4 linked regions of the Homo sapiens genome follow. The protein of the gene in region 4 purifies or fractionates together with the protein of the main gene of each other region. This does not show direct contact. Each region holds a gene or a part of one and is shown on either strand. Other genes may lie near its edges.

What was found. Proteins that work in one complex are often made in the same cells at the same time.
Region 1: the proteins of AQP9 (region 4) and RAB6A purify together in Homo sapiens (affinity purification with mass spectrometry; one large-scale study listed by BioGRID and IntAct). This does not show direct contact.
Region 2: the proteins of AQP9 (region 4) and APPL1 purify together in Homo sapiens (affinity purification with mass spectrometry; one large-scale study listed by BioGRID and IntAct). This does not show direct contact.
Region 3: the proteins of AQP9 (region 4) and FGFR1 purify together in Homo sapiens (affinity purification with mass spectrometry; one large-scale study listed by BioGRID and IntAct). This does not show direct contact.

The regions. Positions count from the first base shown.
Region 1 is NC_000011.10:73,678,107-73,681,074, forward strand, and holds part of RAB6A (ras-related protein Rab-6A), read right to left. Parts: intron 1,615-2,968; coding exon 1,548-1,614; intron 1-1,547. UniProt on the Homo sapiens protein: The small GTPases Rab are key regulators of intracellular membrane trafficking, from the formation of transport vesicles to their fusion with membranes.
Region 2 is NC_000003.12:57,258,729-57,262,228, reverse strand, and holds part of APPL1 (DCC-interacting protein 13-alpha), read right to left. Parts: intron 3,202-3,500; coding exon 3,149-3,201; intron 2,385-3,148; coding exon 2,210-2,384; intron 2,113-2,209; coding exon 2,076-2,112; intron 1,602-2,075; coding exon 1,455-1,601; intron 1-1,454. UniProt on the Homo sapiens protein: Multifunctional adapter protein that binds to various membrane receptors, nuclear factors and signaling proteins to regulate many processes, such as cell proliferation, immune response, endosomal trafficking and cell metabolism.
Region 3 is NC_000008.11:38,427,136-38,430,635, forward strand, and holds part of FGFR1 (fibroblast growth factor receptor 1 isoform 1 precursor), read right to left. Parts: intron 2,814-3,500; coding exon 2,547-2,813; intron 1,301-2,546; coding exon 1,211-1,300; intron 959-1,210; coding exon 786-958; intron 1-785. UniProt on the Homo sapiens protein: Tyrosine-protein kinase that acts as a cell-surface receptor for fibroblast growth factors and plays an essential role in the regulation of embryonic development, cell proliferation, differentiation and migration.
Region 4 is NC_000015.10:58,172,881-58,176,380, reverse strand, and holds part of AQP9 (aquaporin-9), read right to left. Parts: intron 3,314-3,500; coding exon 3,176-3,313; intron 1,464-3,175; coding exon 1,345-1,463; intron 1-1,344. UniProt on the Homo sapiens protein: Aquaglyceroporins form homotetrameric transmembrane channels, with each monomer independently mediating glycerol and water transport across the plasma membrane along their osmotic gradient.

The sequences.
Region 1 (2,968 bases), on a different chromosome or scaffold from region 4:
AAGGTGCTCAAATGGAATAAACTTGTTTATATCTACTATATGCAACAAGGGTCAGAATGAGGTACAAGCTCTATTTATGGGTATCTATCCTAAGGAACTTATTCTACAGTGGCAAGAAGTGATATGAAGATGATGTTCCTCATAGAATCATCTATAATATAAATCTGAAAATAGCCTACAAGATAGTTCCAACAGCAGAGGAAACATTTAGTAAATAATGGGACTTCAGGCCGGGTGCCGTGGCTCATGCCTGTAATCCCAACACTTTGGGAGGTTGAGGCAGGCCGAACACCTGAGGTCAGGAGTTCAAGACCAGCCTGGCCAACATGGCGAAACCCCATCTCTACTAAAAATATAAAAATTAGCTGGGCATGGTGGCTCATGCCTGTATTCCCAGCTACTTGGGAGGCTGAGGCAGGAGAATCACTTGAATTCAGGAGGCAGAGGTTGTGGTGAGCTGAGATTGCGCTGCTGCACTCCAGCCTGGGCGACAGAATGAGACTCCATCTCAAAAAAAAACGGCGGTGGGCGCGGGGACATACTTCAACTCAATAGAACATTTTTTGTTGTTGTTGTTGTTTTGTTTTTGAAACATATTATGTTTTATGTTGTTGTTGTGTTTTTTTTTTTGGGGGGGGAATGGAGTTTCGATCCTGTTGCCCAGGCTGGAGTGCAATGGCGTGATCTCGGCTCACTGCAACCTCTGCCTCCTGGGTTCAAGCAATTCTCCTGCCTCAACCTCCTTAGTAGCTGGGATTACAGGCGTGCACTATCACGCCCAGGTAATTTTTTTATTTTTAGTAGAGACAAGGTTTCTCCATGTTGGTCAGGCTGGTCTTGAACTCCCGACCTCAGGTGATCCACCTGCCTTGGCCTCCCAAAGTGCTGGGATTACAGGCATAAGCCACCGCGCCCGGCCTGTTTTATGTTTTTTATGAAAACATATAACATTTACAAGTGGGAAGAGCTGAATACAAAGTGCTACAAACTATATGGCTTAATAAAAATGCCTGCATATGGAAATACACTAGAAGGTGAATATGAAACACTGAAAACATCAAATTAAAAATCCTTAGAATTAACTAATATTAGATGTCCCAATCCTTGGAAATGAACTAATATTATGTCCTGTTTCTGAAAGCAGAGGCTACAATAAAGCTCCACTCTATTTCTTGCCTGTGTCAAGTAGAAAGCTCAAGTGTTAGAAAAAGAAATGAAAATTTGATATTCCATGAGGAAAAAGCCTAGAGTCAATGGGACTCAAAATGAAGAGGCAAGGACACAGGGATTCTAAGAGTTTCCTGCTCATTTAAAAGCAAGCAAACAAACACAAAACCTCTCACTGATTAACAACGAGAAGCAGGCTGCAAAGGGTGCACTTGGATAACCAGACCTCATTTGCTATAGAAAACAAATGAATTTCTATGCCTTTAAGTCATCAGTTCCTGGTTGTAAAAGGCAATGGCACAATATTCTTTAGCCAAGCAAGCAGGGCTCTAAAGACTAGTGTTAATAATGAAAAATTTCCAATGAAATAAAAAGGATACTATCTTCTCTGCTTCTGTCCTGTGTGCTTTCCATTCCCGGCAAAGCTGCTGCTACACGTCGAAAGAGCTGTGGGAAAGAGAGAAAAGTGATAACTGAGAGGGAACATTTAGCAAAGGGTACTGAGGTTTATGATCACTGTACAGTGAGCTGTCTAATGCTGGGCGCAGTGGCTCACACCTGTAATCCCAGCACTTTGGGACCCACCCGAGGTGGGCAGATCACTTGAGGTCAGGAGTTTGAGACCAGCTTGGGCAACATGGTGAAACTCTGTCTCTACAAAAAAAAACACAAAAATTAGCCAGGCGTGGTGGCACACGCCTATAGTCCTAGGTACTGGAGAGGCTGAACCTGGAGGACTGCTTCAGCTCAGGAAGTGGAGGCTGCAGGGAGCTGAGATCACGCCACTGCACTCCAGCCCGGGCAACAGGGCGAGACTCTGTCTTTAAATAAATAAATAAATAAATAATAAAATAAAATGTCTATTCATTCTATAAACGAGTATTATATAAAAAGCAATATACCAAATACAAAGAGGTATAAAGACATGATTCCTGTTTTTTTAACTGGTGGGATAAGACAAAAGTAAACAGCTATGAAATAAGCAGCAAAAATGTCATTTGAATAATAAAGTATTACAGAAACGCAGAAAAAGGACAGATCATTCATTTAACAAAACTGTATAGTAGCATTCCTATCTTTCATATAAAGAGTGAGGTTCAGGGCTGGACGCGGTGGCTCACGCCTGTAATCCCAGCACTTTGGGAGGCCAAGGGGTGTGGATCACGAGGTCAGGAGTTCAAGACCAGCCTGGACATGGTGAAACCCTGTCTCTACAGAAAATACAAAAATGAGCTGGGTGTGGTGGCACATGCCTGTAATCCCAGCTACTTGGGAGACTGAGGCAGGAGAATCACTTGAACCTGGGAGGCGGAGGTTGCAGTGAGCCAAGATCACGCCACTGCATTCCAGCCTGGGCGACACAGCAAGACTTCTTCTTGGCGGGGGTGTGGGGGGGAGAGTTAGGTTCTGAAGTCAGTGTATAATATATTGTGAAACTCAGTCCAGTCAAAATTATCCTTCATCGTTCATTAGAAAAGCACTATGTTAGAGATTAATACACCACCCCTCAAGTCCAACACAGCTGGCTTTTCTTCCATCATTGGAATGAGTGTCAGTGGGAGTGGCTGGCTTGTGTTTGAGGTATGAAGCTATGAAAAGTTATCTTCAACAGGAGAAACGCACTCAAGCCTGGTGAGATGTTTACTTTTGAGAGGCATATGAGAACAGATACTGGAACAACAGTTTATACTTCTTATATTGTCCCAATCTTAGGCATACACCCACTGGGTACAACAGCCAGTGAAACTGCCTGATTATTTCAATTATTTATCTTTTAATTAAGCACACAGTGTAAACCCAT
Region 2 (3,500 bases), on a different chromosome or scaffold from region 4:
AGAAATAACAGAGTAAACAGACAACCTGTTGAATGGGAGAAATTATTTGCAAACTGTTCATCCAACTGGGGACTAATATCCAGAATATACAACGAACTCAACAGGGAAAAAATCAAATAATCCCACTTAAAAGTATGCAGAGGATATGAATATGCATTTCTTAAAGGACACAAAAACAGCCAACAGGTATATGAAAAGATGCTCGACATTACTAATCATTAGAGAAATGCAAATCAAAATGACAATGAGCCATTCTTACCCTAGTCAGAATGGCTATCACTAAAAAGACAAAAAATAGCAGATGTTGGTGAAATGCAGAAAAAAGGGGAACTCATACACTGTTGGTGGGAACATAAACTAGTACAACCACTATGGAAAACAGTATGGAGATCTCTCAAAAAACTAAAAATAGACCGGGTATGGTGGCTCACGCCTGTAATCCCAGCACTTTGGGAGGCTGAGGCAGGCAGATCACGAGGTCAGGAGATCAAGACTATCCTGGCTAACACGGTGAAACCCCGTCTCTACTAAAAATACAAAAAATTAGCCGGGCATGGTGGCAGGCACCTGTAATCCCAGCTACTCGGGAGGCTGAGGCAGGAGAATGGCGTGAACCCAGGAGGCAGAGGTTGCAGTGAGCCAAGATCGCACCACTGCATTCCAGCCTGGGCGACAGAGTGAAACTCCGTCTCAAAAACAACAACAACAACAAAAACTAAAAATAGAACTACCATTCGATCCAACAATCCCACTACTGGGTATCTACCCAAAATTAAAGAAATCTGTATCAAAAGGATACCTGCACTCACATGTTTACTGTAGTACTATTCACAATAGCAAAGATATTAAGTCAATCTAAATGTTCATTAACAGATAAATGAATAAAGAAAATGTGGTACATATACACAATGGAGTACTATTCAGCCATAAAAAGAATGAAATCATGTCATTCACAACAACGTGGATGGAACTAGAAGTCATTATCTTACGTGAAATAAGCCAGGCACAAAAAGACAAATATCACATGTTCTCACTTGTATGTGGGAGCCAAAAAATTGATCACGTGGAGGCAGAGTGTGGAATGACAGACAACAGAGACTGGGAAGGCTGAGTGATGAGGAAAGGGGGAGGATGAAGAAAAGCTGATTAAAGGGTACAACCATAAATTACGATAGAAAGAATATATTTAATATCTGACAGCAGAGTAGGGTGACTATACTTCACAAAAATGTATTGTACTTGGATGATGGACACCCTAAATACCCTGACTTGCTTACTGTACATTCTATACATGTAACAAAATTCACATGTGCCTCATAAATTTGTATAAATTGTAAAGAATTCAATCAGTAATTACTAACTAATTTAATTTGTAAGAATTTAATTATTATTAAATCTTAGTAAGAATCAATTAGTAAGTGGTTATGACAGAGATATTCTGAAAAGCCATGTACCTTTTCCCCCTCATTGTTTGACTCAAATATATAGCAGACTGATGACAGATTACTTTCACTTCTCCCGCTTGATGTCCGAAGAACAAATCCAAAAAGGCGCTTATTTTCCTGGTGTGTAGCATACAAAACTACACAAGGTAATGGAAACTGCCACAGAAAACATCAGAAGCAAACATGAGATCTTACAAGTCATTACAGCAGCACTTGTGACAAACTCATATGCTAAGTTCTAAAAATATAAATATTTTAATATATTAAAGCCAATTATTTTAACAGACTTGTAATGCAGAAACAAGTAATGTCATATTTGGTTTGAATTAACAAGCAGAAAAAGGTTGTTGAATATTACATTTGTTTTATTAGTCATTAACACATTTTACAAAGTCAAAAAGAACTGTGTTAAAAAAATTACAAAAAGAATTGTGTTAATTCTTTTAAGTTACATAAAATGTTCAATGACAACTTTTTGGAGATGGCCATAGACTTAACTACAACAGCCAAAGACCAATCATAGCTGATACTATCACACTTGAATATACAGGATCAGGATTATTATCAAGTTGTAAGATGTGTATATATACAAAGGGACCTAAAACAAAGCTTAAATCATGTGGAACTCACCGTGAGCCTTGTAACTTGTGTCTGTGGATCAATTAACCTAAAATAATAATTTAAAAATTGGAAAACAAATTTTAATTAGGCTGAAATCATGTAAATGTTTTTTCTACAGTTTTTTAAGGGAGGGTTTTACTTACTTTAAACAGTCACAAGTGACTAATAAATGCGATTCTGTCATACGAAAGATGTTATGGATGGCCCGGGCAGCTAAGATTTGGCGCATAGTTTCATAAACAACATCTGGATGGTCATCTGATTTCACCTCCATTGAACCAAGGAATCGGACAATAAATAACTGATGAAGAATAGAATCTATAATAGAACAAGGTGTATTACATATTTTTTTTTTACTGTATAAATTTACATTTTATTTTTTTCGCCATATTTCTTTTCCAAAAGAATAAAATACACTGCCTCCTTTTAGGTTTTCTAGTGAAAAATTCAACAGCCTAAGGGAGACATTTCAAAATAACTCCTAACTACAGTATTCCAAGTTATAGGAAAATTAGGGTTTCAAATTCAAATAGCTAAAAGTAATGCTTCAACAACTGGCAGTTCTGAGGCCAGGCGTGGTGGTTCACACCTGTAATCCTAGCACTTTGGGAGGCTAAGGCAGGAGGATCCCTTGAGCCCAGGAGTTCGAGACCAGCCTAGGCAACATAGGGAGCCCTGTCTCAACACACACACACACACACAAACACACAACAACTGGTGGTTCTTACAGCATTTCTGTAAGTTTAGAATTCAAATAAATAGTTAGTGGCGGAAAAACAAAATTTATGCTCCAGTACCAGAAGAGAAACATCAGCTGTTAGGAAAAGCTTGAAAGGTATCTTAGGCACTGAATTTGACTATAAAGTCAAAAGTATGAGAGTCTATCGTTTTGTATGAATCACAACATCTTAAGTCAGATTAAGTTCTGTTGCTTCAAGTGTACTATAAGTAAGTAGAGGAAATTCTGAAGTAAAGATAGCATTAAAACTGAGCTTAGTAGCAGAGCAAATATAAACAATAAATTATTCACAGTTTGCTGAGAAGCAGTTCTAAAATATATGAATGCTGCACATCTGTCTTACCTTCAGTTTCAGATTTTGTACTTCCTCCAGATTCTCCAAATGGATTTGTACGCCTAAAAAGTTTAGAAGAAAATATGAACACATGGTCAGTTACCATGAGCCACATAGAAGAAATCTAATTATTAAAACCACAGTTAACATTTAAAAAAAAAAAGCTCTAAAATGCCCCATCCTATTAAGAAACACTATTGATCACTAAATTACTATGATGAAGGCCTCTGCCCTCACACACTAACTGATCAATGTTGGTGCACTTTAGAAGACACAGATGAATTGGAAGTTTAGACATACACAACAAAAAATCAACATAATAAACCATGTTGCAAAAGTTCTTGAATTTAAATAAGCTAGC
Region 3 (3,500 bases), on a different chromosome or scaffold from region 4:
AAGTTAGTAATTTCACTTGTAACAATCTGTCCTAAGGAAGCACGCTTAAAAAAATGCTGACAGAGATTCACTGCAACATTATTTATTATGGTGAAAAACCAGAAAATACCTAATATCACAAAATAGTTCATTAAATTATAGGACTTTTTCTGTTGTTTTTTGGAGACAGAGTCTCACTCTGTCACCCAGGCTAGAGTGAAATGACGTGATCTCAGCTCACTGCAACCTCTGTCTCCTGGGTTCAAGCAATCTCCTGCTTCAGCCTCCCCAGTAGCTGGGATTACAGGAGCCTGCCACCACACATGGCTAATTTTTTGTATTTTTAGTACAGAGGAGGTTTCGCCATGTTGCCCAGGCTGGTCTCGAACTCCTGAGCTCAGGCAATCCGCCCACCTCGGCCTCCCAAAGTGATAGGATTTTAGGCGTGAGCCACCATGCCCAGCCAAATTATGGGATTTTAAAATAATGGAATCTTATACAGTCATGAAAAATTATGTTTCAAATATTCATGCTTGAAATATATCAGGAAAAGACTCATGTTAACAAATGACAAGGCAAGGAAATTACATACATGATGTGATCAACTATGTAAAAACCATATTACAGAAAGAAGACTGAAGAAATGTTTAAACTTTATTTGCATTTTTTTGTATTTAAAAATTTTAATGAATAACCTGTATAGGTGGAAAGTATTACTTAAAAAAATGAAAAGCATGTAATCAGGACTTCCTAACTCGGCCTCCCCTGTTCCCATTACTCTAACTTTCGCATGCACACACACGTACCTTGTAGCCTCCAATTCTGTGGTCAGGTTTGAATTCTTTGCCATTTTTCAACCAGCGCAGTGTGGGGTTTGGGGTCCCACTGGAAGGGCATTTGAACTTCACTGTCTTGGCAGCCGGCACTGCATGCAATTTCTTTTCCATCTTTTCTGGGGATGTCCAATATGGAGCTACGGCTGCCCGGGGAAAGCCAAGAGAGACAGGCAGGGTGGAGAGGAGCAGCTGGTCAGGCTCAGGAGCAGGGCCCAGGCCAGGACCTGGAGGTGTCTTGCCCATCTGCCCAACACCTGTGAGCAGTGCCTGGCACTTAGCAGAACAGGCACCGTGACCCCATGTGCCCTCCTCTTCCTCCCCTTTCAGCCTTCCCCTCCCCTCTTAAACCCAATGCCCAGACCCAAAGGGCAGTAAGATAGGAAACAGTGTCTCACGCATACGGTTTGGTTTGGTGTTATCTGTTTCTTTCTCCTCTGAAGAGGAGTCATCATCATCATCATCATCCTCCGAGGAGGGGAGAGCATCTATGGGAAGAAGAAGGGGCACTGAGGTTCCTCCTAGGGACCCCTAGATTTCACCAAGGCTAGTGCAGTTCCAGATGAACACGGACACCCTCCCCATGGGGATCCCAGTCCCACTGCTCCCTTAGTGATGATCTCTTGGTGGGATGGAAACTGTTTAAGAACAGTTCCTGTGCGTGTTTGCTTCCTTCCCCGAAGCACTGCCCCCACTGCCTGGAAGCCTTCACACTGGGTGGTTCCATCAGGGTCAGCTGTTCCTATTTAACTTAATTCCGTCCTACATTCAAAGGCGCTTTCTCAACTTGTGGTGCCACCTGGGTGTGCTGGAGCCAGGCAACCTGTATTCTTCTTTGGACGGCTGACTATAGGGAAACCCAGGCAGGTCTAGACACACTGTGGCTAGATGCTATTTCCAAAGGATGGGCTAAACACCCCACAGTCAGAATTTTTCTAGCATGTGTCTACTAAGGTTTGGGGGCTGCCCTCCTTAATCAGAGCAGATAGGGCACCCACCACCCCAGCAGCTGCCAACACCTCTCCCCAATAAGTATTTATTTCTTGTAAGAACACGCTTGATACACATGTGGTCACCCATCAGGGTTCATGCCAGATCTTTCTCCAGTCCTTCCTATCACCTTTGGGGATCTGCTGCCAAGTCCACACCCTGAGGTGCATAAATGGCATAAAGAAAATTTCAGCTCCACTTCCTCAACTCCTAGTTTTGTGAAAGTCACATTCTAAGAGTGGCAAGTTCCCAAGTTCACAGAGCTCCAGGGCTCCCTGGCTGCCCTCGCACAGCTCCCTTGCGGTGCACCTGGGTTCCTCTCCAGCAGAGCAGGGATACCACCACCTGTTCAGGGCCTCTAATCACTAAGCCGAGTACCAAGTCCAAATGGCAAGGGAGTGATGGAGTGGAAGCTGGCCGAGCACCACTTAGCCTCCTGGAGATCTGGGCAAGCTGTGGTGGAAAAAAATCACAGGGTCTTAACATCCCAAGAGCCCTGGCAATCACCTCCGAGGTGTGTCCTGGAAGCCCCAGATCTCCGGCCCTGGGGCCCACCCCACCTAGTCACCTCTCTGAGAGCCAAGCCACGCGGCAGGCAGGGAGCAATGTTAGTGGGCAGCAGTTTCTGAAGCAGAGTGGGGGCAGATCACGGAGGGGGAGGAGGTTCACCTTCCTCTGAAACTGGCAGAGAGGGCTGGAGGGGGTGGGTCTAGGGAGGGGCAAGGGCAGGGCTTGGCTACCAACCTGAAACATTGACGGAGAAGTAGGTGGTGTCACTGCCCGAGGGGCTGCTGGTTACGCAAGCATAGAGGCCGGAGTCTGCGGGCACGGAGTCCTGCACCTCCACCTCCTCCCCTGTGATGCGGGTGCGGTTGCTTTCCGCCAGCTGCACCCCGTCCCGCAGCCAGTTGATGCTCTGCACATCGTCCCGCAGCCGACAGCGAAGCTGCAGCAGGTCACCGGGGTGGACCAGGAAGGACTCCACTTCCACAGGGGCTCCCCAGGGCTGGGCTGCAGCCACCACGGGGCCGGGAAGGGAAGCCAAGGGGCGAGAGAGGAAGACAGGGAGAGGGGAGGAGGGGAGAGACAAAGGGAATTACGCTGGCCACACGGAGCCGCACCATCCTGGGCATCACTTACTGGAGGCTACTGAGCCAGGGCAGTGGGAATTGGAGCATGGGTCAGTGGGGAAAACAGCTGGCTGCCTGGGAACCCCCATCTCTTTTCCACCCCACTCCTCCAAAAGTCAAAGGAAGAAAGAGGCAAAGTTAGGAAGCAGCTGTAGCAGCATTAAGCGCATTTCATTTCCCCCATCCTAAGGGGAAAGGTCGGCCCTCCCCAGGACTTCTTTGTGTCCGGAGTTGCCCCCTCCCCAGATGCTCAGTTCTTTGCCAAGATTGCCACTTGCCAGAGGAACACCCCATTTCCTTTGGGATAGCTCAGCCTCACCCTTCCCTAGCAACAGCTGAACAAACCCCGCCCCTCAAAACCCCAGCAGCCCCTGCCCAAGTCGAGAGAAGGCAATTTGTCAACTGGGGGCTGACCAGGATGCGTGTGATTCGGAGAGGGTGGGGGTCTGGCCCTCGACGCGTCAGATGCACATGCTGGGGGGGCAGCCCAAGGAGAGGTCAGCTCAGGGAACCTCTCGCTAACAGGTGTCAGGGCAGGGGATTTGGAGCTGTTGACTATATTAGGACG
Region 4 (3,500 bases):
ACGCATGGCTAATTTTTGTATTTTTGGTAGAGGCAGGGTTTTGCCATGTTGCCCAGGCTGGTAGTGAACTCCTGGGCTCAAGTGACCTGTCCACCTTGGCCTCCCAAAATGCAGGGAGTAAGATGTGAACCACCGTGCCCAGCTCTGTCTAATTATATCTTATTTTGCATTGTTTCCTTGTTCAATGCTCTTCAACTAGATTCAAAATTTCTGGGCAGATACTGCTTACAATGCGTTTTTCTCATATTATTCTTTTTATCCTCATAAGTAACTTCATGAAGGCTCATATTATCCCCATTTTACAAGTGAATAACTTGCGACCCAAAAAGTTCAGTACTTTGCTGAAGCCACGCAGGAAGTTGGAGGCAGAACAGCTATTTTAATTCAAGCATTCAGACTCTGCATCTTGGATCTTTACAACTCACATTTACTCGTCAGTCTTTCAAGCTCCAGACAAAGGGCCAAGCACATAGTGAGTTTTTAATGAACACTTGTTGCCTGTTTGATTTATTGATGAAAGTGGAAAGTAAAAAAGCTGAGGACATGAGGGCATAGTTTTTCATCCATACATTGAATGGAGGTGGGCATAGCTGATGAACTGGAAGATCCATTTTATACACATGCCCATTCTGATCTGCTCCACTGTATAAGTCCTGATCATAGAGGAAGAACTTAGAGATACTGAAAAATATAGCCTTCCTTCCACTGCCCTGACCAAGATAACCAGCAGCCTTCTTGGGACACAGTAAGGGAAGAAGAGTCTTTTGAGTTGACAATGTTAGTCCTGCCATAAGCTGACCAAATAGGTGTGCTATTGGTTACACCACAGTATGCTTGGGTGCTAGAAGCTTGTTTAAAGGTCAATAAGCAGAGATACTTCTAGCCACCTTGAGAGTTTAAATAAATAAACCTATGCACATGGTGAGACAGAGAGGATTGATGATCCCCTAGGCTCAACTACCACCCTTCACAGTCTTTGATTTGAAATAGAAATATCTTCTCTTGTGGCCTCCACACTTAGACCACTTGTTCAAAAGAGTCAATAGTGAAGTGAAGTCCATTTGTGTCTACAGGGATTGAAATGTTTAGTCATTCACTCTTTTCTGGATCTCAACTAATGTTAAACAAGTGTACGTATTAAAGAGGAAGGAGAAAACTTTTCTGGTGGTATCAGCTCCTTGTAAAGGTAAAACGATTATCAAGAAAGCTTGGGTTATGCCCAGCAACCTCTGCCTTTGGAAATATAATCTCTCCTTTCTGATTGGTCTCTAATTCTCCAATGCATTCCCCTTATGAGAGCATATCTTTTCACCAAAGTTAAGTCTTTGTTGAATCTACACTTACTTGATCTGCAAATGCGTTCGCCAGAGATAGATACGGAGCTGGGTATGTTGCAAAAATGTGTGCTGTTGCATTTTCTCCCACGATCAGCAGTTTTCCACCAGCAAAGGACATAAGTCCATCTATGAAAGAGAAAGCTCTGGCACATTAGTGTTCCCTGGGAAGAGTTGAAGGAGGCCTGTGCCAAGCCTTGTGCTAAACAACCAGTCACTCAGATTGAGCTTGGCATAGCCATGTCATTTGTCTCTCTCTACTTCCGAGGAATGATAGTTTTAGAGATGCCCAGGTGAATCCCAGGATGGAGGGTCAAAGGAAGAAGGCCTTTGGCCTCTCTGAATGGCCCACTGCAAACTTGGACAAATTATTCTTCGATAGGGTCCTGGGAATGAGTTCTCTTTTGGGGGAATTCTTGGAGTTTTCGAGGTCAACTGTAAGCCAAAGTGGGGCTTGGTCTTGCTCTAGGAATAATTTATAATTCCCAGAGGGCTCTCAGTAACCCCTAATACCACTCCAGAATTTGAGGGTGTTGCAGTATACTGAAGATGCCCTTAGAGCCAGGGGTATTGCAGCCACTGCCACAGCTAGCACTGACCCCAGGCCATTCTTGCCACAGCAGCGGGCTCTGAATTTCCTGTGTGTTCTTGAATTCCATTTTAGCCCTTTTAGACTCTAATTCTCAGAGAGACACTCTATGGGGAAAAGTCCCTTTCCATAACCTATTTCTTTTCCTTTTTTTTTTTCTTTTTTTTCTTCTTTGGAGACAGGGTCTTGCTCTGCTGCCCAGGCTGGAGTGCAATGGCATGATCCTGGCTCACTGCAGCCTTGATCTGGGCTGAAGCAATCCTCTTATCAGCCTCCTGAGTAGCTGGGACTACAGATGTGAGTTACCACACCTGGCTTATTTTTAATTTTTTTTTCTGAAGAGACGAGGTATCCCTATGTTGCCCAGGCTGGTCTTGAACTACTGGGCTCAAACGATCCTCCCACTTATGCCTCCCAAAGTGTTGGGATTACAGGCATGAGCCACCACACACCCAGCCCTCCATGACCCATTTCTATAAGGCCTGGTTCATAAATTCTACTTCCTAAGGTCTTCAGTTTGGGTAAGTCATAATGTATTAAGGCTTACCTTGGGTTAGAAGGAAGGAGCTGCTTTAACAGTTGATTTCATGGGAACACCAAGGTGTTTTAGTTTGAAAGGCCTCGAGAGTCATCTGATTCAATTCCCTCATTTTCCAGAGGAGGAAACTGAGGCTAGTCAGATCAGATGACTTATTTAAGTTGCACAGGTATTTACTGAACAGCTAGAGCTAAAGTCTGGTCTTCTATGACCAATACTGTGTTTTTCCCAAGGACTGTTGCAGAGTGGAAGCCCTGGCTGTTTGATAGAAGGGCAATGAGGCTCCCACCCAGCCCACATCTCTGCTGTGTCTCTTCCTTCAAAGACATCTTCCCAGAGTCCTTCTCTCAATACTTACTGGTCACACCTTTGTCACCAGAAAACACCTCTTTTCCCAGCCAAATCAGAGACAGCAGTGGGGAAGCCACTGGCCTACTGCTTGTTGTATGGATGTGTATGTTGCAGTGCTGGCTTGGCACAAAGACAGGCTTCCTTTAAGTTCTGCTCCCCATTTAAGATATGACCATTTTCATTAACAGGATTCACGAATTTGCTGGAATGGTAATATGGCCTCATTTTCTCAAATTTAGAACTTGCTGTCACTTGTAGAATGCTTCCCGTCCTTGCTTTTTCTCGCCTGTGCCTACCAAGTAATTCTGACTTTCAAATTATGCCCAGCTCTTCCTAACCTTAGGACTCAGGGACTTTACTCACCATAGTAAATGCCAAAGACGGTTGCAGCCCCCACAAAGGCTCCCAAGAACTGGGCTCCCACATAAAATGGCAATTTGAACCATTTCATCCGTCCAAAGAGACACATTGCTAAAGACACAGCTGGGTTGATGTGACCACCTGCAAGGGAAGATTGGAGAAGTGAGAGGGCAGGTTAGGAAGAAGAATATACAGAAAACCATCTAGAGACCTCAGGTGGAATTCAGTCTTCTAGGCAGAGAACTACTGCCTATGAGGAGAAAGAGGGGTGTGTATGCACGTGAAAGAGAGAGTGTGTATCTGAGCAGGGAGAGAAGGAGGAATGATC